4 linked regions of the Homo sapiens genome follow. The protein of the gene in region 3 interacts with the protein of the main gene of each other region in a pairwise test. Each region holds a gene or a part of one and is shown on either strand. Other genes may lie near its edges.

Evidence for each region.
Region 1: the proteins of TPD52 (region 3) and SPG21 interact in binary tests that used the Homo sapiens proteins (3 or more experiments, as listed by UniProt).
Region 2: the proteins of TPD52 (region 3) and THAP4 interact in binary tests that used the Homo sapiens proteins (3 or more experiments, as listed by UniProt).
Region 4: the proteins of TPD52 (region 3) and MIEF1 interact in binary tests that used the Homo sapiens proteins (3 or more experiments, as listed by UniProt).

What each region holds. Positions count from the first base shown.
Region 1 is NC_000015.10:64,972,139-64,979,914, reverse strand, and holds part of SPG21 (maspardin), read left to right. Parts: intron 1-3,359; coding exon 3,360-3,440; intron 3,441-5,167; coding exon 5,168-5,313; intron 5,314-7,776. UniProt on the Homo sapiens protein: May play a role as a negative regulatory factor in CD4-dependent T-cell activation.
Region 2 is NC_000002.12:241,626,667-241,634,442, forward strand, and holds part of THAP4 (peroxynitrite isomerase THAP4), read right to left. Parts: intron 7,414-7,776; coding exon 6,251-7,413; intron 1-6,250. UniProt on the Homo sapiens protein: Heme-binding protein able to scavenge peroxynitrite and to protect free L-tyrosine against peroxynitrite-mediated nitration, by acting as a peroxynitrite isomerase that converts peroxynitrite to nitrate.
Region 3 is NC_000008.11:80,161,005-80,168,780, reverse strand, and holds part of TPD52 (tumor protein D52), read left to right. Parts: intron 1-7,776.
Region 4 is NC_000022.11:39,497,083-39,505,655, reverse strand, and holds the start of MIEF1 (mitochondrial dynamics protein MIEF1), read right to left. Parts: upstream 3,367-8,573; 5' UTR 3,219-3,366; intron 1,454-3,218; 5' UTR 1,426-1,453; coding exon of another isoform or gene 1,213-1,425; 5' UTR 1,122-1,212; intron 1-1,121. Other genes in the region: MIURF (mitochondrial ribosome and complex I assembly factor AltMIEF1), read right to left, coding at 1,213-1,425. UniProt on the Homo sapiens protein: Mitochondrial outer membrane protein which regulates mitochondrial fission/fusion dynamics.

The sequences.
Region 1 (7,776 bases), on a different chromosome or scaffold from region 3:
CTCTGGGAGAAAGGTGTGTGGGAAAGGCACTCTTCCTGGTGACTGATTTTTTTTTTTTTTTTTTTTTTTGCATGCTTCCACATTGGTCAGGACATTGGTCTCCTAATTTTCCAGGAAGGAGAGAGTCTCTTTAGCTGGCAGTCGCCTGCAGTATTCACTTGTAAGTGGTACTCCCAGTGGGAGTACTGCTGTTAGTGTACGTTTTATTTACTGTTTAAAGGGATGAAAAGGCAGGTCACGTCTCTCCTTTTGGAAGGTAACTGAAAATTCTACTGAGGTTACCACCAACTGAGGCCACACAAAGGAAATCAGTTCCTCTTCCTCCTGAGAGCCCGTCTCTTACTTGAGAAAACAGTTATCATCACTACCTGCTGCTTTTCTCCTGGGTCTTTTCTTCTCTGGCTTAATTTCTCCAGCTTCTTTAACCATTCCTCACGTGACATGTTTGAGCCTCTGCAACATAATCCTCCTTTGTTCAGATTTTCAGTCATTCCTCTTCACAAACAGCATTCTAGAACAGGGTGGGAACTGCCCTCATCCCAGCCCTCTGCAGCCTGAGACATGACACTACCATTTTTGGTGGCCCCTGTTGATCAGCCAGGGAGGGGGAAACCGAGCAACCCATAGGCGCCCGTCCCACTCGGGAGTGCTGTCCAGCAGTGTGTTTCTCGCTCCACAGTGGCAGGTCATGAGAGCCTTGGCTTCTGGCTGGATGTTTCTTCTTCACTCTCAAGGTTCTTGTTGTGCGCTTTCCCTGTTTCATTAGGAGGAGAGTTAATCAAGAAAAGGTCAACAGTGTCTTCAAAATTATTTTGTCATCAAGATGTGATCAGAATGTTCAGCTCCATGAGGTTTTGGAACTTATTTAATATTTGTTAGTATCTAGCAGTTAAAATGCACAGATCTTTTTAATTTAAATTTTTTTGTTGTTGTAATTGTAGATTCACATGCAGTGTAAAAAATAGTAAAGAGAAATATACCTTTTACACATTTCCCCAGTTTCTGCCGAACCTTTGCAAAACTGTAGTACAAAATCACAACCAGGATATTGATATTACTACAATCTACCAATCTCATTCAGGCTTCCCCAGTTCTGCTTGAACTCATTTGTTTGTATGTATTAAGTTGCATATAATTTTGTCACCTGTGTGGGCATGGATATTTATAAATTAAAGACTCCATGAAAGTATCATCCCCTTTCTTTTAGGCTATCATCTGACTCAAATTCTCAAACTTTCTGCTAGGTAGAATCAGTTCCCCATTCTTTCTTGGAATGGTGGAAGTCTTATCCACAAATAGAATTTTAATAATGAAAGTCATACATCAAATCTAAAATGATTCCATAATTCATATGGCAGTATCCATTCCAGTGATTCATCAATAACAAAATGAACCTAAGTGCTTAAACAGTAAGCCTGTTAGACGAGGTTTTTGGGGGAGTTTTTTTGTTTTTGTTTTTGTTTTTTGGAGATGGAGTCTCACTCTGTCACTCAGGCTAGAGTGCAGTAGTATGATCTCGGCTCATGCAACCTCCACCTCTCAGGCTCAAGCAATTCTCATGCCTCAGCTTCCCCAGTAGCTGGGATTACAGGTGCCTGTCACCATGCCTGGCTAATTTTTGTATTTTTTAGTAGAGATGGGGTTTCACCATGTTGTCCAGGCTGGTCTCGAACTCCTGACCTCAAGTGATTCACCCGCCTCGGCCTCCCAAAGCGCTGGGATTGCAAGCGTGAGCCACCACGCCCAGCCAGTTGGTTTTATATGTATATAAAAAAGGAATTCTTGGCCAGGCGCGGTGGCTCACGCCTGTAATCCCAGCACTTTGGGAGGCCGAGGCAGGCGGATCACAAGATCAGGAGATCGAGACCATCCTGGCTAACATGGTGAAACCCCGTCTCTACTAAAAATACAACAACAACAAAAAATTAGTCGGGTGTGGTGGCACATGCCTGTAGTCCCAGCTACTCAGGAGACTGAGGCAGGAGAATCGCTTGAACCTGGGAGGTGGAGGTTGCAGTGAGCCGAGATCGCGCCACTGCACTCCAGCCTGGGCGACAGAGCGAGACCCCAGTTCAAACAAACAAAAAAAAGGAATTCTTAGGGGACAAACCTGAGTCCCTTAGAAATGAGTTTGTGACTTGTACTTCTTTTTCCTCATCATTGCCAGCATTAATAGATAGGCTACGTATAGTCAAGTACCATACTTCTTTTGTCACAAACAGAAGTACAGTAGCCTGGCATGGTGGCTCACACCCGTAATCCCAGCACTTTGGGAAGTTAAGGCAGTTATATTGCTTGAGGCAGGCAAATCGCTTGAGCCCAGGAGTTCAAGACCAGCCTGGGCAACGTGGCAAAACCCCATTTCTACAAAAAAGTATACATATAAAAATTAGCCAGGCATGGTGGTGCATGCCTGTGATTCCAGCTACCGGGGGGCTGAGGTGGGAGAATCGCTTGCACCCAAGAGGTTGTGGCTGCAGTGAGCTACAATCGTGCCAATGCACTCCAGCCTGGGTGAGAGAGAGTGAGACCCTATCACAAAAACAAACAAGCTGGGTGGAGTGACTCACGCCTAAAATTCCAACACTTTGGGAGGCCAAGGCAGTTAGATCACTTGAGGTCAGGAGTTCGAGACTAGCCTGGCCAACATGGCAAAACTGTGTCTGTACTAAAAATACAAAAATCAGCTGGGTGTGGTGGTGGACATCTGTAATCTCAGCTACTCAGGAGGCTGAGGTAGGAGAATCGTTCAAACCCGGGAGGCGGAGGTGGCATGAGTCGAGATCGCGCCGCTGCACTCCAGCCTGGGCAACAGAGGAGACTCTGTCTCAAGAAACAAACAGACACCCCAAAGTACAATAAATGAAATAGAGTAACTAAGTCATTTAAAAGAAGAGGAACAATTTTACTGAATACCCTCTTAAAGAAATGCTACCAAAAAGAGAGGAAGCTCTCCTTAGAACAAATTTTGTTTCCATCTCTCCTGAGCCATAATTCTGAATGAAATTAGATTTAAGAGAAAACGGTATTTCTTTACTGGAATGGGTTCTGCTGTATTCATCCTTGAACCCCAGACTTTTTCAGCTATTTAGAAAGGAAATTGATGGGAATTGAAATTGTTACTCACGTAATATCATTAGAGTGTGCTTACTTTTTATACTCTTTTAATTTGGTCTGTTAGAAAAATGTGAAATATGAAGTTTAGTAAAAAGTGAGAGCTTATTTTTACATATTTTGAATAAGGAGCAGCGCTTGAGCAAACGAGAAATGTCAGTGTTTGAGTCCTAAGTTTTTCAAATACGTGAGTTGCATTTTTACTTTTATGATTTTTAAAAATAAAATTATCGTTATTATTTCAGTTGCAGTATCCAGTTTATTGGGACCATCTCGAGTTCTGTGATGGATTCAGAAAACTTTTAGACCATTTACAATTGGATAAAGTGAGTACCCTGAAACTAATTACATACATACAATTTTTTTTTTATTTTTTGAGATGAAGTCTCACTCTGTCACCCAGGCTGGAGTGCAGTGGCGCGATCTCGGCTCACCGCAACCTCCACCTCCCGGATTCAAGTGATTCTCCTGCCTCAGTCTCCAAAATAGCTGGGATTACAGGCGTGTGCCACCATGCCCGGCTAGTTTTTGTATTTTTAGTAAAGATGGGGTTTCGCCAGGTTGGCCAGGCTGCTCTCAAACTCCTGACCTCAAGTGATCCGCCCGCCTCAGCCTCCCTAAGTGCTGGGATTACAGGCGTGAGCCACCGTGCCGAGCCCTCTTTTATTTTTTAATAATAGCTTTATTGCAACATAATTCATATACCATATAATTTACCCTTTTAAGTATACAGTTCCATGTTTTTCAGTATACTCCCAGGTATGTGCAACCATCACTGCAGTCAATGTTTTATAATTTTTTTAATGCCAAAAACCTCATATTCATTAGCAGTCGGTCCTCATCTTCCCCCCTACTAGCCCTGCAACCTAATTTATTTTTATCTCTATGGATTTGCCTATTCTAGATATTTTACATAAGTGGAATCGTATCATATGTGGTCTTTTTGACTGGCTTTTTTTATTTAGCATTGTGAGTTTAAGGTTCATTCATGTTGAAGCCGGAATCAATACTTCGTTTCTCTTTACAGTTAAATCATATTTTTATAAATATGCCATATCTTGTTTAACGATTCATCAGCTGATGCACATTTGGGTTGTTTTTACCCTTTGGATATCATGAATAATGCTGCCATGAACATTCATGTACAAGTTTTTGTGTTGACATATGTTTTCAGTTCTCTTAGGTATGTGTTTAGGGGTGGAATTACTGAATCACAGTTTTCTTAGACATAAACCACTAAGTGGTTTTGAGTTTTTTCTTTTTTTTTTTTTTTGAGACAGGCTTTCACTTTGTTGCCCAGGCTGGAGTGCGGTGGTGCAATCATGGCTCACTGCAGCCTCAACCTTTTGGGCTCAAGCGATCCTCCCACCTCAACCTCCCAAGTAGCTAGGACTCTAGGCACGTACCACCATGCCTGGCTAATTTTTGTATTTTTAGTATACAGGCCTTTTCCATATTTCCCTAGCTTGGTTTTGTTGGTTTCTTTTTTTCTTTTCTTTTTTTTTTTTTTTTTAAGACGGAGTCTCGCTCTGTTGCCCAGGCTGGAGTGCAGTGGTGCGATCTTGGCTCACTGCAACCTCCGCCTGCCAGGTTCAAGCGATTCTGCTGCCTCAGCCTCCCGAGTAGCTGGGACTACAGGCACGCACCACCATGCCTGGCTAGTTTTTTTGTATTTTTAGTAGAGACGGTTTCACCATGCTGGCTAGGCTGGTCTCGAACTCCTGACCTCGTGATCTGCCTGCCTCGGCCTCCCAAAGTGCTGGGATTACAGGTGTGAGCCACCGTGCCTGGACTGGTTTTGTTTTCTAATGCAATCTGTGAATGATATTTTTTTTAATTATATAACTTGGATGCCAAGTTGTATTATCTTGATGGACTGTATAAATTGCATTTAAATACAATATTTTCTAAATTTCTAGCTGCTGTAAATATTTTAGTCTATTGGCTAGTGATAACATATTCTGTGGTTAGTGATAATTGAAGCAACTTTTTAATACTCAGGTTCAAGATTGATCAGTATTTCAGAATCTGCCTTATATTTGTTTATAATTAGGTTCATCTTTTTGGCGCTTCTTTGGGAGGCTTTTTGGCCCAGAAATTTGCTGAATACACTCACAAATCTCCTAGAGTCCATTCCCTAATCCTCTGCAATTCCTTCAGTGACACCTCTATCTTCAACCAAACTTGGACTGCAAACAGGTAAGAACAAAATTACTTTTTTTGTTCAGTGAAATTTTGAAAATGTTGGCTTTTGAGTGTTTGGTACATTAGGAAGGGAAGACTTATATCTACTTCTATATTCTGCAACTTCCTTGGCTTTTTTTTTGAGACAGAGTCTTGCTCTGTCACCCAGGCTGAAGTGCAGTGGTGCAATCACAGCTTACTGCAGCCTTTATTTCCCAGGCTCAAGCGATCCTCCTACCTCAGCCTCCCAAGTAGCTGGAACTACAGGCAGGCATGCATGGCACCACACCTGGTTAATTTCTGTATATTTTTGTACAGATGAGGTTTTGCCATGTTGTCCCATGCTGGTCTCTAACTCCCGGGCTCAAGCCATCTGCCCACCTTGGCCTCCCAAAGTTCTGGGATTACAGGCATGAGCCACTGTGCCCGGCTCTTTCTTGGCTTTTAAAATTAGAAACAATTACCTTTGCAAAAGGAAAGAATTGAATGAACTCTAAATTCAGCTTTTTTTATTACCTTAAATTTTTAAATTTTGTTTAATATTCATTAATATACTTTTGCTGTTTTTATTCAGTATTTCTATGTAACTAATACCATGTTCTGTTTATCCCACTTATTATTATGTGTAAACAGTTCCGTGTATTGACTGACATAGTTTTATTAGGCATTTGGCTTTTCCCAATTCTTCATCACATTCTACAGTAAATCTTTGTACAAATTACTGGGTTTTTTCCCTTTCCAATTTATTTCCTTGAGATATGTTCTCCAAATGGAAAGAATAGAGCATTTGGTCTGTCAACAGATGTTCTGCACATCATGACCCTTGATATTAGTCTGTTCTTCCAAAAGATAGAAATGGTGGAAATGAGGCTGGGTGCGGTGGCTCACACCTGTAATCCCAGCACTTTGGGAGGCCGAGGCGGCCGGATCACCTGAGGTCGGGAGTTCGAGACCAGCCTGACCAACGTGGAGAAACCCTGTCTACTAAAAATACAAAATTAGCTGGGCAAGGTGGCACATGCCTATAATCCCAGCTACTCAGGAGGCTGAGGCAGGAGAATCACTTGAACCCAGGATGCGGAGGTTGTGGTGAGCCGAGATCACGCCATTGCACTCCAGCCTAGGCAACAGGAGCGAAACTCCATCTCAAAAAAAAAACAAACCAAAAACAAAATGGTGGAAATGCTTTGGGTGCAGCCAGTGGGGTACTTGTTTCCTAGGAGCCATCCTTTCATTGATTTTATCATTTTAAGTAATTGGTAGGTATCTATGATGCCATACAGCTGGCTTACTGTGCACTTCTTTCATTGCTGGCAAGGCGAGGCTCTAGCCTTAAAATAAAGCCCAGTGGCCAGGTGTGATGGCTCATGCCGTACTCCCAACACTTTGGGAGGCCAAGACAGGAGGATCACTTCAGGCCAAGAGTTTGAAACCAGCCTGAGCAACATAGTGAGACCCCATCTCTACAAATAACAATAATAATAAATTAGCCAGGTATCATGGTATGCACCTGCAGTCCTAGCTACTCAGGAGGCTGAGGCAGGAGGATCGCTTGAGCCCAAGAGTTCAAGGCTGCAGTGAGCCACAACTGTGCCTCTGTACTCCAGGCTGGGTGACAGAGCAAGACCCTACTTCAAAAAAAAAGCCCAGTGAGTAAACACATCTGTATGATCAGTGTTTTCAAATAATGTATAGGGAAATATCGTTTTCACATCTACTTAAAATTGCACTCTGATATTTTTTAGTTTTTTTTGTTGTTGTTTGTTTTTTTGTTTGTTTGTTTTTGAGATGGAGTCTCGCTCTGTCGCCCAGGCTGGAGTGCAGTGGCACGATCTCAGCTCACTGCAAGCTCTGCCTCCCAGGTTCACGCCATTCTCCTGCCTCAGCCTCCCGAATAGCTGGGACTACAGGCGCCCGCCACCATGCCTGGCTAATTTTTTATGTTTTTAGTAGAGACGGGGTTTCACCGTGTTCACCAGTATGGTCTCGATCTCCTGACCTCGTGATCCGCCCGCCTCAGCCTCCCAAAGTGCTGGGATTACAGGCATGAGCCACTGTGCCCAGCTATTTTTTAGTTTTTCTGATGTTATCTTAGTAATTACTCAGCATTCATGCAACAATTTCTTGTATACATTAGCTACTTTACAAATCCTTCCCGTCCAGATAATGCACTAAATAATGCTCATTATTTTTGGTGATTTTTATTGCTGTTCTAATTGTTAGAATGCCAAGACAGCCCCCATTCAGTTTGTGCTCTGGCACATCAGCTGCTTATTGTCAAATATCTGAGTGCTTACTGTGTGCCACACACTGAGGATCCAGGAGTGAGCAAAGTCAACAGGGTCCACCCCTTACAGAGCGTACTTAGACCTCATCACCTTCAAAAGATAAGAAAGTGATGGGGCTGGGAGAGAACTTAGAAAGTTAACTGGAAGGTGACCTAGTGGTCCTTTTGAGGGAAGCTCAACTTCCAGCAAG
Region 2 (7,776 bases), on a different chromosome or scaffold from region 3:
GATCCTCCTGCCTCAGCCTCCTGAGAAGCTGGGATTACAGGCACGTGTCACCATGCCCAGCTAATTTTTGTATTTTTAGTAGAGACAGGGCTTCACCCTGTTGGCCAGGCTGGTCTCAAACTCTTGACCTTAAGTGATCTGCCTGCCTCGGCCTCCCAAAGTGTTGGGATTACAGGCATGAGTCACTGAGCCCAGCTAATCTGGATTTTTGAACAACTTTATATTGTGAAAAATCTTGAACATTACAAATTAAACAGATTAGTGTAATAAATCCACACACATGTCCCTAGTTTCACCATTTATCACTCTTCTGACATTCCTGTTTTGTCTGCACTTCTCCAAACTCTTCAGCTTCCATTTATTATTTATTAACAGATTGTTTTTAGGACAGAAAAATCCAGCAGGTAGTACAGAGAATTCCTTCACCCTCTCACCCCCTGCCCTGTTCCCCTATGATTAACATCTTGCATTAGTGTGGGTATGTGTGTCTCAAGTTACGAACCAATACTGATTCATTGCTACAAATAGGGTCCATAGTTTACATTAAGGTTCACTTGTTTTGTACTTGGATTTTGACAATCCAGATTTCAAGAATTATATGTAGATAATGAATCCATAAAGGAATAAAAAGAAAACAGATTTTGAAGCAAGTGTTAAATTGCTGAACTTAGGAAACAGGTGAATAATATTTAACAGGCGTTGGTATCCTTACTGTATCAAGAACGTTTATAACTCAGTGGGCAAGCAAGACCGCGAACACGTGGTTCATAGACGTGCTAACAATGTACCCTCAAGGAATCGCTGCTGGCGGAGAAGAACACTACGTCCACAGAACGCCACCGGGCACTGCCTCTGGAGCGTGGCTTCAACCCACCTCTGAAGCCCACTGGCCCGCATCCTTCAGTTTGGGGAACCTGCCCAAAAGCAGACACTGGCTAGCGAGCTGAATAGACAAGTGTGCGGCGCTTTCCACATAAATCCCTAAAGAATGACCCAAAGAGTCTGTCACTGAAGAACAAATCCACACGGACAGCAAGAACCACAGAGTGCAGACCCCAGGGCCTGCGACGCCGGCGTGACAGACTGCAACCCCAGGGAGAGGATGTCCTCTCCCCACCACACCCTCGCTCCTGCCACCCCTGTGCCCACACCGCATGCCCAGCCGTGGCCTGGCCTCACCTTTGGAGGGGCACAAGGCATGCAGGGTGGTGCCTGCACCTGTCCCTTGCTCTCCAGAGCCTGGCCCTTCACAGCCCTCCCCACTGACACACTCTCTTTGGAGCCACACTCCCTCTGGCTCCTGTCTACTTGCCTCACTCCACTTCACGGCCAAACCTGGCCCTGACCCCTCATCACTGGCCCCCTCTCCGCCCAGCTCCACCAGCCTCTCCAGTGAGATTCCAGTAACCAGCGACCCTGGGAGCACATCCAACCCCCTTCTCTCCACTATCCTGGGGCACATCCAGCCCCCTTCTCTCCATTCTGGTCAGAGTAGCACCCAGCACAGCAAGTCACCCTTCTTTCCTGAACAACCCCTCAGCCTTCCCCTGGACCCGCCTCGGCTGCCCCTCTCTCAGCGAGGCCTGCTCCTGGGCCGGGCACTGAAGCCCAGCCTAGAACCACACTCGACCCCCCAAGGCTTCAAACACCTCTGCCCTCCACCCCCACACTCACATGCCCAAATCCCAGAGGCCAGCTGCTGGCCTCAGACTGCCTGTTCAAACTCTGGCCTCAGCACCCAAGAGCATCTCAAACTCCGTTCCTCACCCCCATCTCCTGCTCCTCCCCAAAAGCCTCTCCCACTTAGCATCCTCCAGGTGCTCAAGCCTAATCCCTGTAGCTGGCCTGCTGATCTTTTGCCTCTCAACCCCCTGAACCCAGCCAGTACTCCAGCATTGCTACCACCGCCACTTCCTCCCTAAAGTCTGAGCCATCGCCATCTACCCTGGGACTGCCACAACAGTCACCAGCGCCCCCCTCAAAACTGTACTGGAATAGGATTTTTTTTTTTTAAAGTCATGGCTGGGTGCGGTGGCTTACCTGGCCAACATGGCAAAACCCCATCTCTACAAAAAAAAAAACAAAAAACAAAAAAAACAAAAAAACAAAAAAACACACAAAAAATTAGCCGGGCATGATGGCACATGCCTGTAGTCCCAGCTACTCAGGAGGCTCAGGTGAGAGGATCGCTGGAGCCCAGGGGGTCGTGGCCGCAGTAAGACGAGATCATGCCACTGCACTCCAGTCTGAGATTGTCTCAAAAAAAAAAAAAAAAAAAAAAAGTCATTAAATACTGCCAAAAAGGAGGGGAAACTTGGATACAGCAAACAATGGTAAATAAAGTAACCAGTAAAATGTATACTTCAATCTAATAATCATGGTTGCTTGATGGGGGAATAAGAAGCACCGGAACTAAGATGACATACAGCCTCCACCTAGGGAAGGTGGCACACAGGACCGATCAGCTCTCAACAGTTACACAAAGAGGGGCTCACGTGTTTGTTTTTAAAACTGAAAGATGGGCTGGGCACAGTGGCTCACAATTATAAACCCAGAGCTTTGGGAGGCTGAGACGGGAAGATCCCTTGAAGCCAAGGGTTCAAGACCAGCCCAGGCAACATAGTAAGACCCTATTGCTACAAAAAATTTTAAAAATTAGCCGGATGTGGTGGTATGTGCCTGTAGTCCCAGCTACTCGAGAGGCTGAGGTGGGAGGATGGCTTGAGCCCAGGAGGTCAAGGCTGCAGTGAGCTGTGATAGGACCACCACACTCCAGCCTGGGTGACAGAGCAAAGCCCTGTCTCTTAAAAAAAAAAAAAGAAAAGAAAAAATTGAAACATATCCACTAGAAGAATAATAAGAAAACGGTGAGGAAGCCTAACAAATTAAAAAGGTAGGCCCGAATTCCCACTTATCAGTAATCACAATTGTAAATGACTAAATTACTCTACAAAAAGACTTTTGGATTGAGTTAAAAATATAACTATAAAATAAGATGAAAAGGTTGAAAATAAGGAAATGAAGAAATAAGACGTTAAACGGGACAAAAAGGAGTTTCTTGTGTTGGTAACAGGAAAACTTATGCATCAAACAGCATGGTCTTGAGGCAGAAAGCAAAACTTGGACATACAAGCAGAAACGGGCACCTCCAGAACCACAGGGGAGGTCTACCTCACCTTTCCTGGAAATCAGCAGACCGAGAGCCTGACAAGAAGCTAGGGAACGCTCTGGTCCGCTGACTAACACAAGTAAGCAAGTGCCCAGCTTCAGGCGGGAACAATATAACCAAGGAGTGGTGAGGATACATTCTTCTAGCACTACACTGCAACAGTCACAAAAAGGGACTGTGTTAGCCACAGTGAAGTCTCAAAGGATTCCAAAAAGCAGAACTCCTTCAGTCCTTACCATTAGACCTTAATGCAATCAAATTTTAAAGTAACTACAAAAAAATTTGCTCCCCTCGCCCAATCTGTGTGCACTGAAAAATCTGTCAACACCCTTTTAAATAACCACAGGGTTAAAGGGGGCATCGAGGCTGGAATTACAAACGACTCAGAAATGAACAGCAACAAAAGCAGAGAGAGGCAGATCCATGGCACGCAGCCCAAGGAACAGCAGAGCCACAGCCTCCATTGCAGGGTTAAGGAACACGCCAGGAACCAGAACTACAAGAAAAAACCCAACAAAGCAAAAAGATGTAAGGATTAACCAGCATAAACAACAACTCAGAGACACGAAGGGCTGGCTGTTTGCAAAAACCTGTAATGGAGACAAACTTCAGGAAGTTTAACCAAGAGGAACAGAGAGAAGCTGTCTAAAGCAGCATTAGCTCTGATAACTACAAACAGCTTTAAAATTCCAAGAGAAGCTGGGAGGCCGAGGCGGGTGGATCACCTGAGGTCGGGAGTTCGAGACCAGCCTGACCAACATGGAGAAACCACTGTCTCTACTAAAAATACAAAATTAGCTGGGTGTGGTGGCGCATGCCTGTGATCCCAGCTACTCGGGAGGCTGAGGCAAGAGAATTGCTTGAACCCGGGAGGTGGAGGTTGCGGTGAGCCAAGATTGCACCATTGCACTCCAGCCTGGGCAACAAGAGCAAAACTCCGTCTCAAAAAAAAAAAAAAAAAATTCCGAGAGAAGGCCTGGTGTGGTGGCTCACAACTGTAGCCAACATGGTGAAACATCATCTGTACTAAAAATATAAGAATTAGCCAGGTGTGGTGATAGGGGCCTGTAATCCTAGCTCCTTGGGAGGCTGAGGTAGGAGAATTGCTTGAACCCAGGAGGCAGAGGTTGGAGAACTGCTTGAACCCGGGAGGCAGAGGTTGCAGTTAGCTGAGATCTCACCACTGCACTCCAACCTCGGCAACAGAGTGAGATGCCATCTCAAAAAATAAAATAAAATTCCAAGAGAAAAACAGTATACAATTTCAACCCAAGAATCCGAAAATCTAGATTTGATCTGAAAATCTAGGTCAGCAGTACTCAGTGGCACCGTTCCTCCCCAGGACACATCTGGAGAACATGTCGGATGGGCTTTGTTTTCGGTTGTGCTAATAGCTGTTACCCTGAGGATCCAGGAGGTCCTGAAAATCTTGTCCCACTATCATATACTTATTGACAAGCATTGATCCAGATGAAATCAACAATGTGGTAGGAATATGGTTTTCCTATGTACACGACAGGCAAAGGAAACCATCCGCCATATGTAAACATCTAGAAACCAATTTTAAGAAATACTTAACAGTAAAATATGGGAAAAAACAGAAATAGAGCTAATATACATACAAAGATTACACAGGAAATTTTGTTTTTTGAGACAGGGTCTCACTGTCACCTAGGCTGGAGTACAGTGGTGCAATCACAGCTCACTACAGCCTCGACCTCCCAGGCTCAAGCTATCCTTCTGCCTCAGTCTCCCAAGTAGTTGGGACCACAGGCGTGCACCATGGTACTCGGCTAATTTTTAAATTATTTATAGAGATGGGGTCTCCCTATGTTGCCCAGGCTGGTTTGAACTTCTGGACTCAAGTAACCTTCCCTCTTCGGCCTCCCGAAGTGCTGAGATTACAGGCAAGAGCTACTGTGCCTGGCTTACACACCAAATTTTTAATAACAACAAGGAATAGAACTTGGGAGGTGGATGACAAACAATAATTTTTTTACCACTTCTTAGTCTATTTCTGCAGTTTTAATTTTTGCAACAGAGAATGTATTGTATTTCTTTTTTTTTTTTTTTCTCTTTTGAGACAGAGTTGTGCTCTTTGTCACGCAGGCTGACAAAGAGTAGTGCAGTGGTGCCATCTCAGCTCACTGCAACCTCCGCCTCCCAGGTTCAAGCTATTCTCCTGCCTCAGCCTCCTGAGTAGCTGGCATTACAGGAGTGTGCCACCATGCCCGGCTGAGAATGTGTTTCAATAGATGTGTGTCTTTTTTTTTTGGAGACAGAGTCTTATTCTGTCACCCAGGCCAGAGTGAAGTGGTGCAATCCTGGCTCACAGCAACCTCTGCCTCCCAGGTTCAAGCAATCCACCTGCCCCAGCCTCCCCAATAACTGGGATTACAAGCGTGCACCACCATGTGCAGCTAGTTTTTGTATGTTTTAGTAGTATGTTTTTGTATGTTTCACCATATTGGCCAGGGTGGTCTCGAACTCCTGACCTCAAGTGATCTGCCCACCTTAGCCTCCCAAAGTACTGGGATTACAGGTGTGAGCCACCGAGTCCAGCCTCAACAGATGTTTTAATTGAATAGATGTTAAAATAATTATTAATGTTCATGATGATTTAACTTCAAGGATATTCCTTAAAACGTGAACAGAAAGAACCTCCTCATGATTTTAACAGTTTCTGATATTTGCTTTTTCTGAGAGTTTACTCTCTTATTTTCCATCTAGTTCCTAACTCATCTGGAATTTCTGTTGCATAAGGTATGAAACAGAAGCTATCTTTCCCTGTGCACTCTCCACGGAGGCGTTCAGGCACTCCTGGCTGACGCGTGCTGCCTGCCTCCTTCACGGCCTACATCCCTACACACACAGATGCCTCTTGTGGGACCAGGTGCAGTGAGGCCTGCTTTCTAACCTGGATTCCCTCATCCACAAGGTATGGTTACGACCAGAGCTTCCTCCTGAGAGCGCAGGGAGCTTGTGACACCTCCCAGAAATGCTCAGGGGACGCTGGCCACCTTGCAGAGAAACCCCTCCTAACGGGAAGGGAACATGGGTACGCGAGGCTCCGGTACTGACCGCGGCTGGGCGACAGCAGGCTACTTGGATAGGGGACGCTCACTCTCCTCAGCTCATCCAGCTTCTCCTGTAGCTTCCGCACCTGGCTGTCGGAGCGGCTGACCCTCTGCCGCAGGCTCTTCAGCTCGCCGTTCTTCTTCTCCACCTGCTCCCGCAGGCAGCACACCTGGCTCTTGTTCTGCCGGGAGGAGAAGCAGTAGGAGTGCAGTGAGTCGATGAGCTTGCAGGCCCCTGACGCCGACAGGATGACCTCGTTGATGGACATGGGGCTGGCGTCGCTGTGCTCGCTCTGCACGGCTTCCGTGGCTGGCTTTGGGGTGACGTCGGCAGGAGGGGCAGAGGGGCTCTGGGAAGGCTTCTGCGGTGTCGCGGTAAGTGATGAGCTGGGAGGGCTCTGGGCCAGGCCCTTGTCGGGTCCCAGGCTGCTCCCACTGCAGCTTGGTTCCACATCTTTCTTCAGCCTCTTGCGGTCAATGGGCTCTCGGGGGACAGATGGCCTTTCTCGGGTGTGCTTAGAGGAGAAACTGTACGAATGAAGTGAGCCGATAAATTTGCACGCCCCAGATCCTGGGGGCGTAAAGTCATCCATAGAAATGCCACTCTTATCTGTCACGCCCCCTTCGATGGAGGAAGTGGCGCTCTCATCGCCAGCATCTGTGGCAGACGCTTCTGCTTTTCCCTGACTGCCTGCCACCATGGTGGCCAGTCCATCTCCTGGAGTCCGTTCCAGAGCTTGCTGGGCCTGCTCCTGGCTGGCGGCCTCCTGGGCCGCCCTGGGTGTGGCTTCACCTTGCAGAGCAGCTTGCTTCAACCTGCGGGACTCTGGCTTGGCCATCGGGTTTCCACTCGAGGACGGTGACCAACCTGCAGCTCCTCTGCTGGTGGCGGCACTCGAGTGTCCCCTCACACCCCCTGTGGCCTTGCTGGCATCTTTTCTCCGGGTGCGGCCATGGCCTCCAGCCCCCCTCTTCTTCTCGGTCAGGTGGAAGATGGATGGCACGGCCGTGGGCTTCAGCAGGCGATGCTGGTCCTCCAGCCTCTTGGAGAAGCTGTCTTTGGTGAAATGCTCACTACAGAGAAATGAATACTTAGTGGGAGTCCAGTTATCCCTCTGAACAGCTTTTAACCATTGGATTAGACGTTTTGAGTCCTTTAGGGGGAACCTACAGGACAAATGACAAAAAGTAATTAGAAATAATTAAATGTCTCCCCTTAAAATAATCAACTGTAAAAGCAAAACAAGTATTTTTGCACGCACCCTAAGCCGTATTGACTTCATCCACTTAAAAAAATACTTCAAAAAGATTTAAAGAACATCTTCTACCTGCAGTTATTACTGGAGTAGAAATCTGAAAGACCCGTTGTCTACCCATACAGAGCTTATAGTCTGTAGGGCGGATGGGAAAGAAGGTAACCAACTGCTCCCCAGGCTGTGGTAAATGCCCAATGGGGACACAGGATGCTGACAGACAGTGCCAGGATGGCCTCAGGACAGCAGGAAATAGCTCCTAGAAGCTGACTGCTAA
Region 3 (7,776 bases):
TTCTGTTTTCCCTGTCTATTCTCAAGAAGCAGAACTTAGCCAGAGAGTTGCTGATAAGGCAGTGCTGGGCTTGGAGGATAACTTTACATGGAAGATCTTAGAACTAGTAGAGTGGATGACTCAGTCTTAAGTGAATCTGGAGCAAGACTCCTGCCTTAAACTGGAAAAGGCACAACCTGGGATTTTAAACCTGGTGTTCACTAGCAAACTGTGTTGGCTGAAATAAGGTTTATCAAACTCTGTGATTGTCTCCTGAATTGTGATTTTGGCAACATACTTAAAACCAAAGCAGAAAATTTTAGGATTTGTTGAACTTTTAATAGTTTTTAATGTACATGGAGTTTTCTTATATTTGTCCCTTAAAAAATCCCTAATGAAACTCTAGTTGTAAAATTAAATGCCCTACCTCTTGTCTTACATGCATTTATCTATTGAAAATCCCTCTTCCAACCTTCTTATGTGAAGTTATCAAAAAATCTGTTCTTGCTACTGATTGTACTTAACAGAGCTGTAAATTTTTAAAATAAACACTGAGTTTTCCTTATGTTTTCAACCACGAGTATTCTAATGCTCTGTAGTATCAGGCCCAGATTCTGTTGTTTTTCTACTTTCTCTCATACCTAGGGCTTGAATACAATACTCTGCTTACAGTGAGAGTTCAGTGAACATCAAATGATTTAAAATACGTTAAATTGCATCATGCCTTTCAAGAGTTTCCAAGCATTAAGCTCAGCGCAGCACATTTACTGTGTGTGGTATTTCCTACTTTGATAGAGCAGTGTTGCTAACTAGAGCATACATTGTGTAGAAAACCCTCCTGACTACCTTTTATGGAGCTGAATAAATATGTATACTTGAGTGCTCTCATGTTAGTCATAACCTTTAGTTTAGCACTGTTATATAGAAGTGACAGTCACGTAGCCCACTACACATTATACTAGTTTGAATTTAAACAAAGCAAAACAACTTTATAATTTTAAGGGGAAGAGGAATGGTTCCTGAGGCCAAAAAACTAGAGAGGAAAGGCTTCAAAAAAAGAATAACACAATAATATGTCACTATCATTTTAACATTGTAATTGTGCCTTAGAAATAAATAACAGAAATGTGGGGTATCATTTATTTAAAAATAAAGCAAATGTAGAGAATAATGGATAATAATTTTGAGGGTCTACTCCCAAGTCTCTGGGTGTGACCCACCCCATCCAGGCTGTTAATTTATTTGGTCAACAGTTTCGTGATTTCCATATGGTGCTGATGTCTTTGTTAGCTCTTCTTCACTTCCTGCATTTATTTTTATGTGGCAGGCTGCCTAGTCCCTAGGGGAATAGCTGAGTGGTAGGAGGGGTTGTGATCTTTTAGCAAGATTTCAAAACAGAATAATGTATGCATGTAATAAAAACAAATACGCTCACTCACAGTGCAAAACCAAAAAGAACACCCAAATCCCTGGAACTTCTGTGCTACTAAGTCTTTTGTTGTAGGCTAAGATTATTTTCCTTTTGGGGTTAATTATTTCTGCCTTAATTATTGACTGTTGTGAAATCTCTCTTCTGAGACATTCCCAAATTTTATTTAAACTAGTGGGTACCAGCTGTACTGAAACCATAATTTTAGCCATGTATTTTTATTAGAAAAATGTTTCCAGGGGATTAAGGAATTTTAATATTTAGTGGAAGTTTTAAAAAAGAATGTAAAAATGCCTTTTGGAACCTAAGAATAGTTGTCTATTTTAGAAAAATCAGAAATATTGATGGAGAAAAAAGAAAATTACCCATAATCCTGTGCGAGAATGAGAAATCATAGTTAGCATATTAATTTATACCTGTTCATGTATCTATGCTTTAAACAAATCACAATTTTATTATTATTTTTTTTAACAGTGTCTCGCTCTGCCACCCAGGGTGGAGTGCAGTGGCGTGATCTCGGCTCACTGCAACCTCTGCCTCCTGGGTTCAAGCAATTCTCCTGTCTCAGCCTCCCAAGTAGCTGGGACTACAGGCGCATGCCACGACACCCAGCTAATTTTTTTGTATTTTTAGTAGAGATGGGGTTTCATCATGTTGGTCAGGCTGGTCTCGAACTCCTGACCTCAGGTGATCTGCCCTCATTGGCCTCCCAAAGTGCTGGGATTACAGGCGTGAGCCACTGTGCCCGGCCAACAAATCACAAAATTTCTTATTGAATATTGCATTTTATAACTTGCCCTTTTAAAAAAACCCTAAATGTATTTAAAAAATACACTTTAATGGCCGCATGTGGTGGCTCATGCCTGTAATCTCAGCACTTTGGGAGGCCAAGGCGGGCGGATCACCTGAGGTCGGGAGTTGGAGACCCGCCTGACCAACATGGAGAAACCCTGTCTCTACTAAAAATACAAAATTAGCCGGGTGTGGTGGCATATGCCTGTAATCCCAGCTACTAGGGAAGCTGAGGCGGGAGAATCGCTTCAACCTGGGAGGCGGAGGTTGCAGTGAGTCTCTCTCTCTTGCCCAGGCTGGAGTGCAATGGCACCAATTTGGCTCACTGCAACCTCCACCTCCTGGGTTCGAGTGATTCTCCTGCCTCAGCCTCTTGAGTAGCTGTGACTACAGGCGTGTGCCTCCACGCCATAATTTTTCTATTTTTGTAGAGATGGGTTTCATCATGTAGTCCAGGCTGGTCTCGAACTCCTGGCCTCAAGTGATCCTCCCGCCTCAGCCTCCCAAAGTGCTGAGATTACAGGTGTGAGCCACTGCGCCTGGCCTAGAGCAGCTCCATTTTTAATGGCCATTTGTATGTATTTATTTATAGATGTAACATTTTATATACTGTTATAGACAATATTTAACTTGTTCCCTGTTGATGAACATTTACATTTTGCCTTGTAGGGGAGGAAAAATTTCTCCCTACCCTTTTAGGGTTTCTGGCGAGGCCTAGGAATTAAACCAACATGAGATAGATTAACAGGAGAAAAGCATGCAAATTTTATTTAGTGCTTTTTATGTATTACATACCTTTTACCCTCACAAGAGGAATGAAGACTCAAGGAAGTGGCTTGGCCTGATCGATTATATACTAGGTCAAAAAAAGAGTGGCAGTTGTGGAAAAGTAACTAGGAAGGTAAGGTTTAGTTTAGCAAGGTTTCTTTATGCAGATTTCTTTGGGCTTGGACTTCCTGTGATAAGAATGTTTCTTTCTTCCTGGTAGAGGGAGGACATCTTTCATATGGGAGCTTCATCTTCTGCTTTCAGGAAAAAGAGAGGAGGTTTGGGTGCCCTTCTTAACACCTGCTGTTTTTCAAGTGCCTTTAGCCCAAAATAATCAGCATGCTAAAGTGGAATGTTTTGGGATGCTGTGTCCTGAACTCCTTCACCCTGATATTTTGCTGTTAAAACAAAGCTGCAGCAAATGTATGTGTATGCAAGTCATTCCATAAAAATGCCAGTGTGTCTGTAGGAAGAATTCTTAGAAGAATGTGGCTGTTCAATTTTGATAGTGCCAAATTCTGCTCCATAGAAGTGGTGCCAGTTATACTTCCACCAGCATGTGCGAGCGTTTGCTTTCCCTTGCCATGTGGCCAGGATGTTGCCACACTTTTCCATTGTTGCTTGTCTTATAGGGGAAAAATGGTTTCTCAGTATAAGTCTTACTATATATATTTAATATAAAGGTAGTTTACTTCTTTTGATATGTTTACAATCTACATGGCATTTTCTGTGAAATATCTGGCCATATCTTTTGCCAATTTTTCTATTGTATTTTATAGAATGTACCCCGTTTATGAGATGAGTTGTTAATTTTTTTTCTAGTTTGTCATACCTTTTTTGACTTTATAGTGATTTTTTTTAACCAAGAAGAAATACTAATAGCTCTTTTTTTTTTTTTTTTTTTTTTTTTTTTTGAGACATTGTCTCCCTCTGCCACCCAGGCTGGAGTGCTGGAGTGCTGGAGTGCAGTGGCATGATCTCTGCTCACTGCAACCTCTGCCTCCCAGGCTCGAGCAGTTCTTGTTCAGCCTCCCAAGTAGCTGGGATTACAGGTGCGTGCCAGCATGCCTGGCTAATTTTTTGTATTTTTTAGTAGAGATGGGGTTTTGCCATGTTGGCCAGGCTGGTCTCGAACTTGTGGCCTCAAGTGATCTGCCCACCTGGGCGTCCCAAGCTGCTGGGATTACAGGAGTGGGCCACCATACCCAGCCTAACTAATGGCTCTTTTCATTTATGGATTCTAGCTTTTGAATCATTTTTAGAAATGCCTCCCTCACTTTGAGTTTATGCTTTTATGGTTTTATTTTTTATGTTTAAATCTTTCCTCAATCTGGAGTTTGTTTTGATAATGAGATGTGAGGTATAAATCTTAACACCTCCACCTCCAATTGGCCACCCAACTGCCTAACACCATTCATTGACTAATGGCTTCTTCCTCTATTGATTTGAAATACCACTGTTGTCATGTACTAAATTCTTACATTCTTTTCTTTTCTCTTTATCTGTATGTTCATTGCCAGCAGCTAAACCTAGTTTAAGTTATTGTAGCTTCATAAAATGTAAAAATGTCTGGAAGGGCTAGTTTGCTCTGATTACTCTATTTTTTTTTCTGTCAGTTTTTTTCTAGGTATTCTTGCCAGACTATTTCCAAACGAACATTAGAATCAACTTATCTAGGTGAAAATTCAACAAAAATCATGCTGGCAGATCTTTTTCTCCTTCTCTCTCCTCCCCCCTTTCCCCTTTCTGTCTGTCTGTCTCTCTCTCTCTCTCTCTCTCTCTCTCTCTGTCTCTCTCTCACAGTTAGAATTTGGTCTGTTTCTTTATTCAATACCCCAATATATGTTCATTAGGGTTATACTGTATACACTACACATAACAGTTTTGTTTTTTGTTTTGGATATTATTTGATAATAAGAATTTTACCACATCATTAAAAAAAGTTTCCCCAAGCTATAATTTTTGATAATTGCACTCTTCCACTATTCAAATGTTTATTTAACTCTTTCTCTCCTGGAGTAGGTTTACATTCCATTTTAGCTATGATACTGCTTTAAGAGAAATTGTTTTAAGATAAATTTCCATAGACAGGTCAAAGGAGGTGAATATATGTAAGCTTTTCGATGCCTGTTACTGAATCTCATTCTGGAAAACATAACTGTCAATGCCCTCTTTTTCTCATGGTAAAAAAATACATAACAAAATTTACCATCTTAATCGTTTTTAAATGTACAGTACGATAGTGTTAACTGTATGTACCTTGTGCAACAGATCTCTGAAACTTTTTCATTTTTCAAAATGAAAACTCTGTACTCATTGAACAGCAGCTTCCCAACTTCCCCATTCCTCCATCCCCTACCCCTGGTAACAGTCATAGAAACCGTGATTTTATGAGTTTGACCACTTTAGATACCTCATATAGGTGGAATCATGCAGTATTTGTCTTCTTGTGATGCTTATTTTATTTAGCATGATATCGGGGCTCATGCGTGTGTAGCACATGACCCAATTTCCTTCTTAAGGCTGAATAATATTCCATTGTATGTATGTACTACATTTTCTTTATTATTTATCTATCAGTGGAAATTAAGGTTGCTTCCACATCTTGGCTGTTGTGAATAATGCTGTAATGAACATGAGTGTGCAAATATCTCTTTGAGAGCCTGTGTTCACTTCTTTTAGAAATATACTCAGAGATGGGATTGCTGGATCATATGATAATTCTGTTTTAATTTTTTCAGAACCTTCATACTGTTTTCCATAATAGCTTTACCAATTTACATTTGCACCAACAGTACACAAGGATTCCAGTTTCTCTCCATCTTTATCAACACTCGTTATTTCCCGTTTTTTTTGTTTGTTTGTTTGTTTTGTTTTGTTGTGTTTTGAGACACAGTCTCACTCTGTCACCCAGGCTGGAGTGCAGTGGCTCAATCATAGATTACCATAACCTTGAACTCCTGGGCTCAAGTGATCCTCCTGCCTCAGACTCCCAAGTGCTGGACTTACAGGTTGAGCCATTGTGCCAGGCTGTTTTGCCTGTTTTTGATCAGATTAGTTGTTGAGTTGTACGACTTTTTTATATATATGTTCTGGATATTAACCCTTTATTGGATGTTTGGTTTGCAAATATTTTTTCTTATTACGTAAATTGCCTTTTTATTGTCTTTTTTTTCTTTTCTCTTTTTAAGAGATTGAGTCTTTCTCTTTTGTCCAGACTAGAGTGCAGTGATGCAATTCTAGCTCATTGTAGCCTTGAACTCCTGGGCTCAAGGAGTCCTTCTGCCTCAGTCTCTCTAGTCATTTCCTTAAAAAAAAAATTACAGAGCTTATAGGCTTCAATTTGTCTGTTTCCTAGAGAGGTTATAGATGTTATTATCCATTTGTATTTCCCTCTAGAGATTGTTACTTATCTACTTTGGGATCTTAGTGTGTCTTGCCTTCTCATTGTTCTCTGTCACCTTCCCTCCTTGGCAAGTATTTACTTTTTCTATTTTGCTTATCATTTTGGTTATGTTGGATCTTTCAATGTTATTTTTATTAGCAAAATACAGTATTAGGAGCAAATATTTTCCAGGTGACATTTTGGGGGTAATTTGCATGGCTTTCTGTGGCTTTCAGTACTTCCTTCTTGGTGTCTTTTCTGTTTAGACACTTGTAATTGGTACTAAAAATAGTGATTTCAGACAGGCTATTAATTTACATGCCTTGGCTCATAATCATGGTGAGTGTGTTTTATGTTACAGCTATACAAATGTAAATGTCAGTTTTAAAAATTATTTAAGGCCAGGTGCGGTGGCTCACACTTGTAATCCCAGCACTTTGGGAGGCTGAAGTGGGCGGATCACTTGGGGTCAGGAGTTCGAGGCCAGCCTGGCCAACATAGCGAAACCCTGTCTCTACAAAAAATATAAAATTAGCCCGGCGTGGTGGTGCATGTCTGTAGTCCCAGCTACTCAGGAGGCTGAGGCAAGAGAATCGCTTGAACCCAGGAGGTGGAGGTTGCAGTGAGCCAAGATCATGCCTCTGCACTCCAGTCTGGGTGACAGAGCGAGACTCTGTCTCAGAAAAAAAAAAAAATATATATATATATATATATAAATGTGTTCTTGATAAAAGTTTTGGATTGGGAACTTATTAACAGGATGAAATTTCACCCATTGTATCCTTAGTTTATTTGGAGGCATTGTGGTGTGGAAAAGGAGCTTATGGTCCAATCAGGAGGGCTTAAGAAATAAAGATGATAGTTTATCCAACCCACTAGAATGTGTACTTGGCTAGAAATAGTGTCACTAGAATAGGAGACTGCCTTACATTTTATTCCCAGCTTGCAGTTCAAGTATGAATGTAGTAGGTACTCCATAAATATTTCTCATATTGCACATACATCAATCAAAAAGACTTCTAGCATTAATAGAGTCAGATGGATTTGGATAGAAAAGACTAAGAATTAAAGAAGGAACATGGTTTGGCAGGGAGATAGGAATATATGTTCTAAATATGCTTATAGTCTTACATATAATCACTGAAAATCTGTCTGTGAATATAAGTTAAATTGGTACTTTGCTCCTAAGGCAGGTATGTAAGAATGTGTGTGTATACATAGGTAGAAGAGACGGTGTTGGTTAAATTTTTATTCTTGAAAGGATATTGGATATAGTGCTCAATAAATACTTCATAAACACATTTTCAGTGCTGTTCTATTGAAGTTAGTTATTTACTTCTTTTTTTCTTTTTCTTTTTTTTGAGACAGAGTCTCGCTCTGTTGCCCAGGCTGGAGTGCAGTGGAGTGCAGTGATTGAGGCTCA
Region 4 (8,573 bases), on a different chromosome or scaffold from region 3:
CAGAGCTGTGATGGTCCCCACATAAGAAGATATACATTACAATCTCAACTTGGAGTCAACGTCCTTCCAGACCAGGCCCAGCCTCAACTCTGGCTATTTGCCTTACAGGGGTACCATGCTGGCCACATCAGACTTAAGTTTCCAGACTACAAAGTGCAGTTTCTGGACAGGCAGAGCTGTTTGAACCTATAATCCCAAAGCTTTGGGAGGCAAGGGTGGGAGGATCGCTTGAGGCTAAGAGTTTGAAAGCAGCCTGGGCAACATAGCAAGACCGTCTCTACAAAAAAAATAAATAAATAAAAAATTAGCTGAGCACATTGGTACATGCCTGGCGTCCCAGCTACTCAGGAGGCTGAGAAGGGAGGACTGCTTGAGGCCAGGCATTCAAGGTTCCAGAGAGCTATGATCATGCCACTGTACTCCAGGTTGGGCGAGAGCGAGACCCCGTCTCTTTTTTTTTTGGAGACGGAGTGTCACTCTGTCACCCAGGCTGGAGTGCAGTGGCGCGATCTTGGTTCACTGCAACCTCCACGTGCCGGGTTCAAGCAATTCTCCTGCCTCAGCCTCCTGAGTAGCTGGGACTTAAGGCATGCGCCACCATGCCCGCCTAATTTTTTGTATTTTTGGTAGAGACAGGGTTTCACCATGCTGACCAGGCTGGTCTCGAACTCCTGACCTTGTGATCCTCCTGCCTTGGCCTCCTAAAGTGGTGGGATTACAGGCGTGAGCCACCGCACCGGGCCAACCCTGTCTCTTAAAAAAGAAAATTGCAGTTCCCACTCCAGGCATTTGCTTATTCCTGCCCTGCTGCTGGTAAACCTCTATTTCTCATTTGAGGCAGACCTCAAATGTCCTCTTTTTTCCCCCCCACCCCAGAGACAGGGTCTCATTCTGTCACCCAGCCTGGAGTGCAGTGGTGCAATCATACCTCACTGCAGCCTCAACCTCCTGGGCTGAAGCCATCCTCCTGCCTCAGCCTCCTGCAGAGTTGGGACTATAGGTGCACACCAGTGCACCTGGCTCTGCACTGATTTCTAATGACTAAAAGGATGACTTTGATCCTTTTCTCGGTCCCTTGCAACAAAAAATAAGGAAACCTACAGGAACGAGGGCCTACGTACCTGAGGCTTCTTAATACATCTGTAAGATGGGGATGGAAGAGAGCAGGAGTGTCTACAGAAGGCACCTTTGTCCTCTTTCCCTTGGAGGATCCTAAATGATCCTCCCCAATTTGCCGTTGAGAAAGACCAGGCCCTTCTCCAGCTGCCTCTCCCGGGCCTCAGCGTCCTCTAGCTTCTGATTTTTTCGGAATTCACGGCGGATGGAGGCAAAGTAGAAGTCTCGATCAGTGTAGCGAAGCTGTCGGCCCTGGCGCAACAGAGCCCGATAGAGACTCAGCACCGCCTCTCGGCTCCACGGGGCCATGGGGGACTGGCAGGGGCTGGGTGTCACACTATAAACAGAAGGAAAGACATACAAGCCTAGTATCAGAATTAATAACAAAAGGACCTGTAGAGACTATGTGAGGGCTTTTTAATCCAAGTTCCAGAGACCCCCCGCTCCAGGTCACCGTATGACTTAATGGCAAGACTAGAACTAGAGACCCCAGCCTCTGGATGCCCATTCTGGAAACATACAGGTTGTGGTTCACCAGGGCTCAAATCCTGGCCCTGCCACTTACTTGCCATATGACTTTGGGCAAAGGACTGAACCCCCGCTGAGCACCAGCTTCCTCACTTATAAAATGGAGATTAGGATATTATGGCAATAGTACCTACCACATAGGATTATTTTGAGAACTGTGCACGTAATGAACGGTAATAGAACTTCACCACAGGGGGTGATCTAGGAGGGTTGAAGACAAGCACTCAGCCATACTTGAATCCTGGCACCAGCACTTACGAGCTGCATGACCGTGGGCAAGTCTCCTAACCTCTCTGTGACTGTCTCAGTTCCTCATCTGTGAAGTGAGGATAAAAATCATATTTTGCCCATACGGTTGGCATAAGCACTAAATGAGTTTAATGTATGTGAATATGTTTAGAACAGCACTTGGCACACACGAAGCACTCTATCAACAGCAGATATTATTAGTAGCACCTAGCCAGGTTTGTAAATGCTCAATAAATAATTACATTTAAGTATAAACTGCCACTGCCTTCCTTCAGTAACAATAAACCCTTACACAAGCATATCTGTAAAGTGCTTTGTTGCCCATGACCACATTTAAATTAAGAATCTAGAAGGTGGTCAGGGTTCTTAGTAACAGTAAATGCTTATTGCATTATATTGCACTATATACAACGTGCAATGTTCGAAGCATGTCTCACATAACAACTCATTCTGTCAGCTACCCTAGGGGTCAACATTACCCCATTTTAAGTGGAGGAAACAATCTCCCAGAGGGAAGTAACTTGCCCGCGGGCCCACAGCTGTCAAGGGGAGGGCTGCACTCCTGACCCCAACTCTGCCTGCCTCTGGAATGAGTTACCCTTTGCTGGAGCCGGACCGTGTGTACAGCACTTCTGGGTGCTCCACGAACTTTCCCAGCACAGCGCTTGGCACATACAAGGGGCTCAAAATTATGCGTAACGGAGAGAATTTCACAACGTCCCTATGTGGAAGAAATGATCACCTCCGTTTCAGAAATAAAGAAATGACACCAAGTGGGGGAAGTATTTGGCTGGAAAAAAAGATTGGACTTTGGGCCCAAAGTCCGCGAGCCCTTAGCCTCCGGCCTTGCTAACTTCCTGCGCAAGCTTGAGCAAGCCACCATCCCTGCCCATTTTTCCTCAACTGTTTAAGAGATCCCTCGGCCCTAAGGACCTCCCGATGCAGAAAATCAACAGAAGTGTTTGATGCTGTAAAAGGCGACTGTCACGGCGAGGGCTGTAACTACAAGGTCGCTGGGCGACTGGGCGGCTGAGCCCCAGCCAGTCTGCACTTCACCAACCGTGGGGGCCGGGCCGGGGTGCGGAGGCCCAGAGGCCAGGGCAGGCCTGCTTCGGGGCACTGGAGGTCTCCGAGGTTGGGGCGGGGCGGGGCAGCCGAGGGGTCTCCCAGGGGAAAGTCCAGGGCGGGATGGGGCGAGACCCCCGGCTGCATGCTGGTATCCTGACTCCGGGCCGCATGCGAGGCGCCGGCAGCAGCCTGAGAGGAGGCGCTGCAACCTCCCCGCCGCCCAGCCGCCGGCGGCCCTCATTCCTTCTCTCACTCACCCGCAGGCCGTGCGCGCTACCACTCCGCAGGACTCGCCTCTGGCCGGGTACCTCTCCCCGGGTCACCCATCAACATGGCCCCTTCACTTCCGGGACACGACCTTGCGCACGGAGCTGCGAAGGGGCTGAAGGGAGCACGAGGGCGAGTGGAGGCGGAGGGACTTCCGGTCTTCTCCAAGCTCTCTCTCGGGCCCCGCCCCCTGCGCATGATTCCGCCCCCCAATCCTGAGCCCCGCCTCCGTGTGTGACCTCACCAAGGGACTGGCCTGCAGAGGCCACTCGCGCCCCGCCCCCAGAGGACTCCGGTGTCCGGGTCCGGCTGTGGGTACCGGGGTGGTCCCGATGCTGGCAGAAGTTCAGAGGGCAGGAGGTAGCCTCGCTGTCCAACAAGGCTGCCGCACCGGGTAGGCCCCTCACCTGCTGGCAACCCCTTAGCCTGTCGGGGTACCTGGCCAGCCTCCTGTACTGTATATGCTGATCTCTGGCTGGGGCCCTGGGGTACCTGAGGGAATTCTAACACTAATATTCAGAGCTCCTCAAAACCCATTTTCTCAGATCGCCTTCTTTTCATCCCTCCATGCTGTTCCTACTCCCCAGGCCCCATGGCTTCTGGCAAACTCCTACCCTTCCTTCAAAGTCTACCTCAAATGCCCCCCTTCACTGGGAAATCTCTCCCAGCCCCTTCCTCGCCTCCCTCTAACACACTCACGTGCCTTCTTTGGGCCCCACGGAAATGTCTGCACATCTTACGCCTCATAATCTGTTCAACAACAAAACGTATTTCTTGGCGCCTACCATATGCCAGGCACTGTAATTTATCCATTTGCTTCTCTGTCTCTCACTAGATTTGAGGACGGAGGCCGTGTCTCTATGGAAGCTCCCTCCCCCAACTGCCTCCCTCCATGCCTGGCTCTGCCAAGCCCAGGGCCTGGGGCTTTGGAGTCCGGGGCCACCGGGGCCACCGCTGGCTCCTAGTTCCAGTTCCACCACTTAGGGACAGCTGCCCTCTGCCAAGTTTCCTAACCTCACCCAGCCTTGGGGCTGTGGTGAGGATTAAAAGGTAATATCTACCAGTAGAGGGGTGGGCAATTGCAGAATAGTCAGGCTATCTGATAAAAGGACGAGAACCAGGAGAAGAACATTGCAGGGAAGAGCATTTCAGGCCTCCCCCCAGGTAAGCCTTTAAGCTCAGCGTGGTCTAGGAGCCACAGGGAGAAAGCCAGTGCTTTCGCAGCTGAGTGAGCAGGAGCTGGGAAAGAGGCCAGAGGGGAGGCCCTTACCAGAACTGGGAGGGAGATGGCGGGTGCAAAGGAACCACAGCAGGGTTCAGAGCCAAGAAGTGCTGGGATCTGACTTCCCTTTCAATGGGATCTGTCTGGCTTGAGAATAACGGAATGGAACCAGGGCTGAGGCAGGGAGACCAATCAAGAGTCTGTTGCAGGGCTGGGCACGGTGGCTCACGTCTGTAATCCCAGCACTTTGGGAGGCTGAGGTGGGCGGATCTACTTGAGGTCAGGAGTTCGAGACCAGCCTGACCAACATGGTGAAACCCCATCTCTACTAAAAATACAAAAATTAGCCGGGAGTGGTGGCATTGTACCTGTAATCCCAGTTACTTGGGAGGCTGAGGCAGGAGAATTGCTTGAGCCTGGGAGGCAGAGGTTGCAGTGAGCCAAGATCACGCTACTGTACTCCAGCCTGGGCGACAGAACAAGACTCGGTCTCAAAAAAAAGAAAAAGAAAAGAAAAGAAAACCAAGATGGAGAGAGGCATAGTAGTTTCTAAGACACTGAGCTAAGAAGGAAAGAAGCTTTCAGTGGAAGCCAAGTCTGTCTTACTCTGAAATGTGTGTTCTTTCCACTCTTTCAGGCTGCCCTAATTTGCTTTTTAAAGAATTTTGTGACCCAAATAAATATAATTGGTGGCATTTCCATCGGCATACCAGATGACCTCTTCATATCTCTCCTGACTTTCTTGTTCTATGGAATGTTATTTTTCGGAGGGAGGGACAGAGGGAGGTCATTTGGAGGGGTCTCCCCTTCGGATCAGCCCCTCTAGATCCACTTGCTCTTCAGGGTCTTATCTTTACTTAGACTGACAAGGCCTCTCCCTGCCCCCGATGCTTCCGTGGCAATGGAGTGTGGGCAGTGAGGTGGTATCTAGCACTTACATGTACGTACCCATGGTGCCTTTGTAGGCCAGAGACCCACGGCAGGGGGCACTGACCCAAACCTCAGGGCTCTGCCAGGTTTCACAGGGCAAGAGGCATTCCAGGATCTCTTGGATTGATATTGCAGGGTGTTTGTTTGTTTGTTTGTTTGTTTGTTTTGAGATGGAGTCTCGCTCTGTCTTTAGGCTGGAGTGCAGTGGCGCGATCTTGGCTCACTGCAGCCTCTGCCTCCCGGGTTCAAGTGATTCTCCTGCCTCAGCCTCCCGAGTAGCTGGGACTACAGGCGCACACCACCATGCCCGGCTAATTTTTGTATTTTTAGTAGAGACGGGGCTTCACCATATTGATCAGGGTGGTCTCGGTCTCTTGACCTCGTGATCCACCCGCCTTGGCCTCCCAAAGTGCTGGGATTACAGGTGTGAGCCACCACGCCCGGCCAGATATTGCAGGTTTAACAGTAACCCCCCTGATTTCACATCCAGATGATGGCATCAGCCTCTTAATGGTGATCATGGCTGGAGGGAGAGAGGGGAGCACTCGCTTACCCAGAACAGTGACTCACATATAGTAGTGAATGGGTGTAATTGTTGAATGAATGAACGTTTTGTGGAAAGACAGGAGGGATGGACCATTTCACCTGGGTCAGGGTGATCAAGCCTGTCTCATTTGAAAGGTGGGTTGGTGGTGAGTGCAGGGCAAGTGCGTTGGGCTTCGTGAGCCTTAGTCCCTCCACCTGTGTATTGGAGATGGTGAGAAAGGACTAGCTTATCAGGCTGTTGAAGATTAATCAGAGAGGGCATGTGAGGCCTGATGCATGAGGTGAGGGGTGGCTAATTATAAAATGTCATTGGAGGCTGGGTGTGGTGGCTCACGCCTGTAATCCCAGCACTTTGGGAGGCTGAGGTGGGCGGATCACCTGGGGTCAGGAGTTTGAGACCAGCCTGGCCAACATGATGAAACCCCATCTCTACTAAAAATAGAAAAATTAGCCAGGCATGATGGCAGGCGCCTGTAGTCCCAGCTACTTGGGAGGCTGAGGCAGGAGAATCACTTGAACTCAGGAGGCGGAGGTTGCAGTGAGCCGAGATCATGCCACTGCACTCCAGCCTGGGCAACAGAGTGAGACTCTGTCTCAAAAAAAAAAGAAAGAAAGAAAAGAAAAAATGGAGACAGTGATTTTGCTGGAAAGGGAAAGAGAAGATGAAAGGACAGCTACAGGGGACAAAAGCCAATTGTATGTGTTGCATCTGGGTTTGTTTAGGGGTTGGCTGGTATTTATTCTAGCCTTGATGCAGGGAGGGGGCAGCCAGAAGAGGGAGAGAAGTTGAAAAACGCAGAGAGAGGGAGCCCTCAATGGCGTGATGTCACAGAGGAGACAGGGGACAGTGAGAGAGGCCAGGTGCCCCTTAGCTGCAGGGGGAGCAGGGAGGGACAGCCCAGGCTTCCCAGCAAAAGGGCAGAGGAGCCTGTGTCTTACCAGTCTCGTTCCCTTTGCTTTGCCCAGTAGGATGCCTTATAAAATTGAGACCCTGTGTAAATGCTTAGAGGGAATTAGAGGGAAATTGCTACTGGATGATAAGGCAGAAAGCTCAGTCCAGCCCACCCCCTCCTCCCCACCCCCTCCCAGGGGTTACTCCAGGCTGATGGAGGAACAGAGGAATCAGGAGTTCCTGGTTCCTGTAGCCAGATCAGGAAAGCTCTGGGAAGTCAGCCAGCCAGCGACTTGGAAATTACTGTCAAAGAGAGAGCCTCCTCCCTCTTAATGGGGTTTGCTGTCATCAGATGTCATTATTCCTGTATTCACCAGACAAGAACCTGATATCCCCAGGCAGAAGGGCCGGTCCCCCATTCACCTGTAAAATCTCCACTGCCCACATTGTGCCAGGTGGTGTTGAAAGGGACAAAGGGAATGTAAGCTTGCTCACCGAACGCCCTCTTGCAGGTGGATTGGCTGCCTTTGAATTAGATGTCTACTGCAGTCCAAGGGGATGGGACAAAGTAGTAGGATAGGATAACAGGGGCTCCCTGAAACTATAGCAGAATTTTGACTTGGCACTGCTGTGATGGGGAGCCATAGACTATTTTAAAGTTGGGGTGTAGTGGCTGGGCGCAGTGGCTCATGCCTGTAACCCCAGCACTTTGGGAGGCTAAGGCAGGCAGATCACTTGAGGACAGGAGTTCGAGACCAGTGTGGCCAACATGGTGAAACCCCGTCTCTACTAAAAATACAAAAATTAGCTGGGCGTGGGGGTGCATGCCTGTAATCCCAGCTACTCAGGAGGCTGAGGCATGAGAACTGCTTGAACCCAGGAGGCAGAGGTTGCAGTGAGCCGTGATCACGCCACTGCACTCCAGCCTGGGCAGCAGAGCAAGACTCTGACTCAAAAAAAAAAAAAAAAAGTTGGGGGTAGTGATAGAATCAGAGCTAGGATGTGAGGCAAGGCAGGGCTGCTGGGCGTAGTTGTTCATGTCACACACTGCACAAAGGTACCACATCTAAGGGGCACCTTTCACATCAAGACCTTGTAGAACTGTATGTTTCTTACGACATTTCTTTGGCAGAAGGCAGTTTATCATTCTAACGAAATCAGTGCACGATGGCAGTTTTCCAGTAAATGGAAGTAAAATGTCTGGAGGAAGGGATGCCCTTGCCAATGAGTACAAAGGCCCATATGGGCTGGTGTCAGCCCTCATGGAGAATTCATTGGTCAAGACTGGAAGAGTCTCTCGGTCTTGGCACCATCTTCTTGGAAACCTCTGTGCCACGAGAGCTAAGTGGAGGAAGAAGCAAATATACAAGTGGAAGCGCAAAAGAAGAAAGATGAAGCCGGGCAAGGTGCCTCACACCTGTAATCCCAGCACTTTGGGAGGCTGAGGTGGGCAGATCCACTTGAGGTCATGAGTTAGAGACCAGCCTGGCCAACATGGCGAAACCCCATCTCTACTAAAAATACAAAATTAGCCAGGCGTGGTGGCACATGCCTGTAATCCCAGCTACTTGGAAGACTGAGGCAAGAGTATCATTTGAACCCAGGAGGTGAGGTTGCGGTGAGCCGAGATCGTACCATTGCACTCCAGTCTTGGCAACAAGAGCAAAACTCTGTCTCAAAAAAAAAAAAAAAGAAAGAAAGAAAGAAAAGGAAAAAAGAGGCCGGGCACGGTGACTCACACCTGTAATCCCAGCA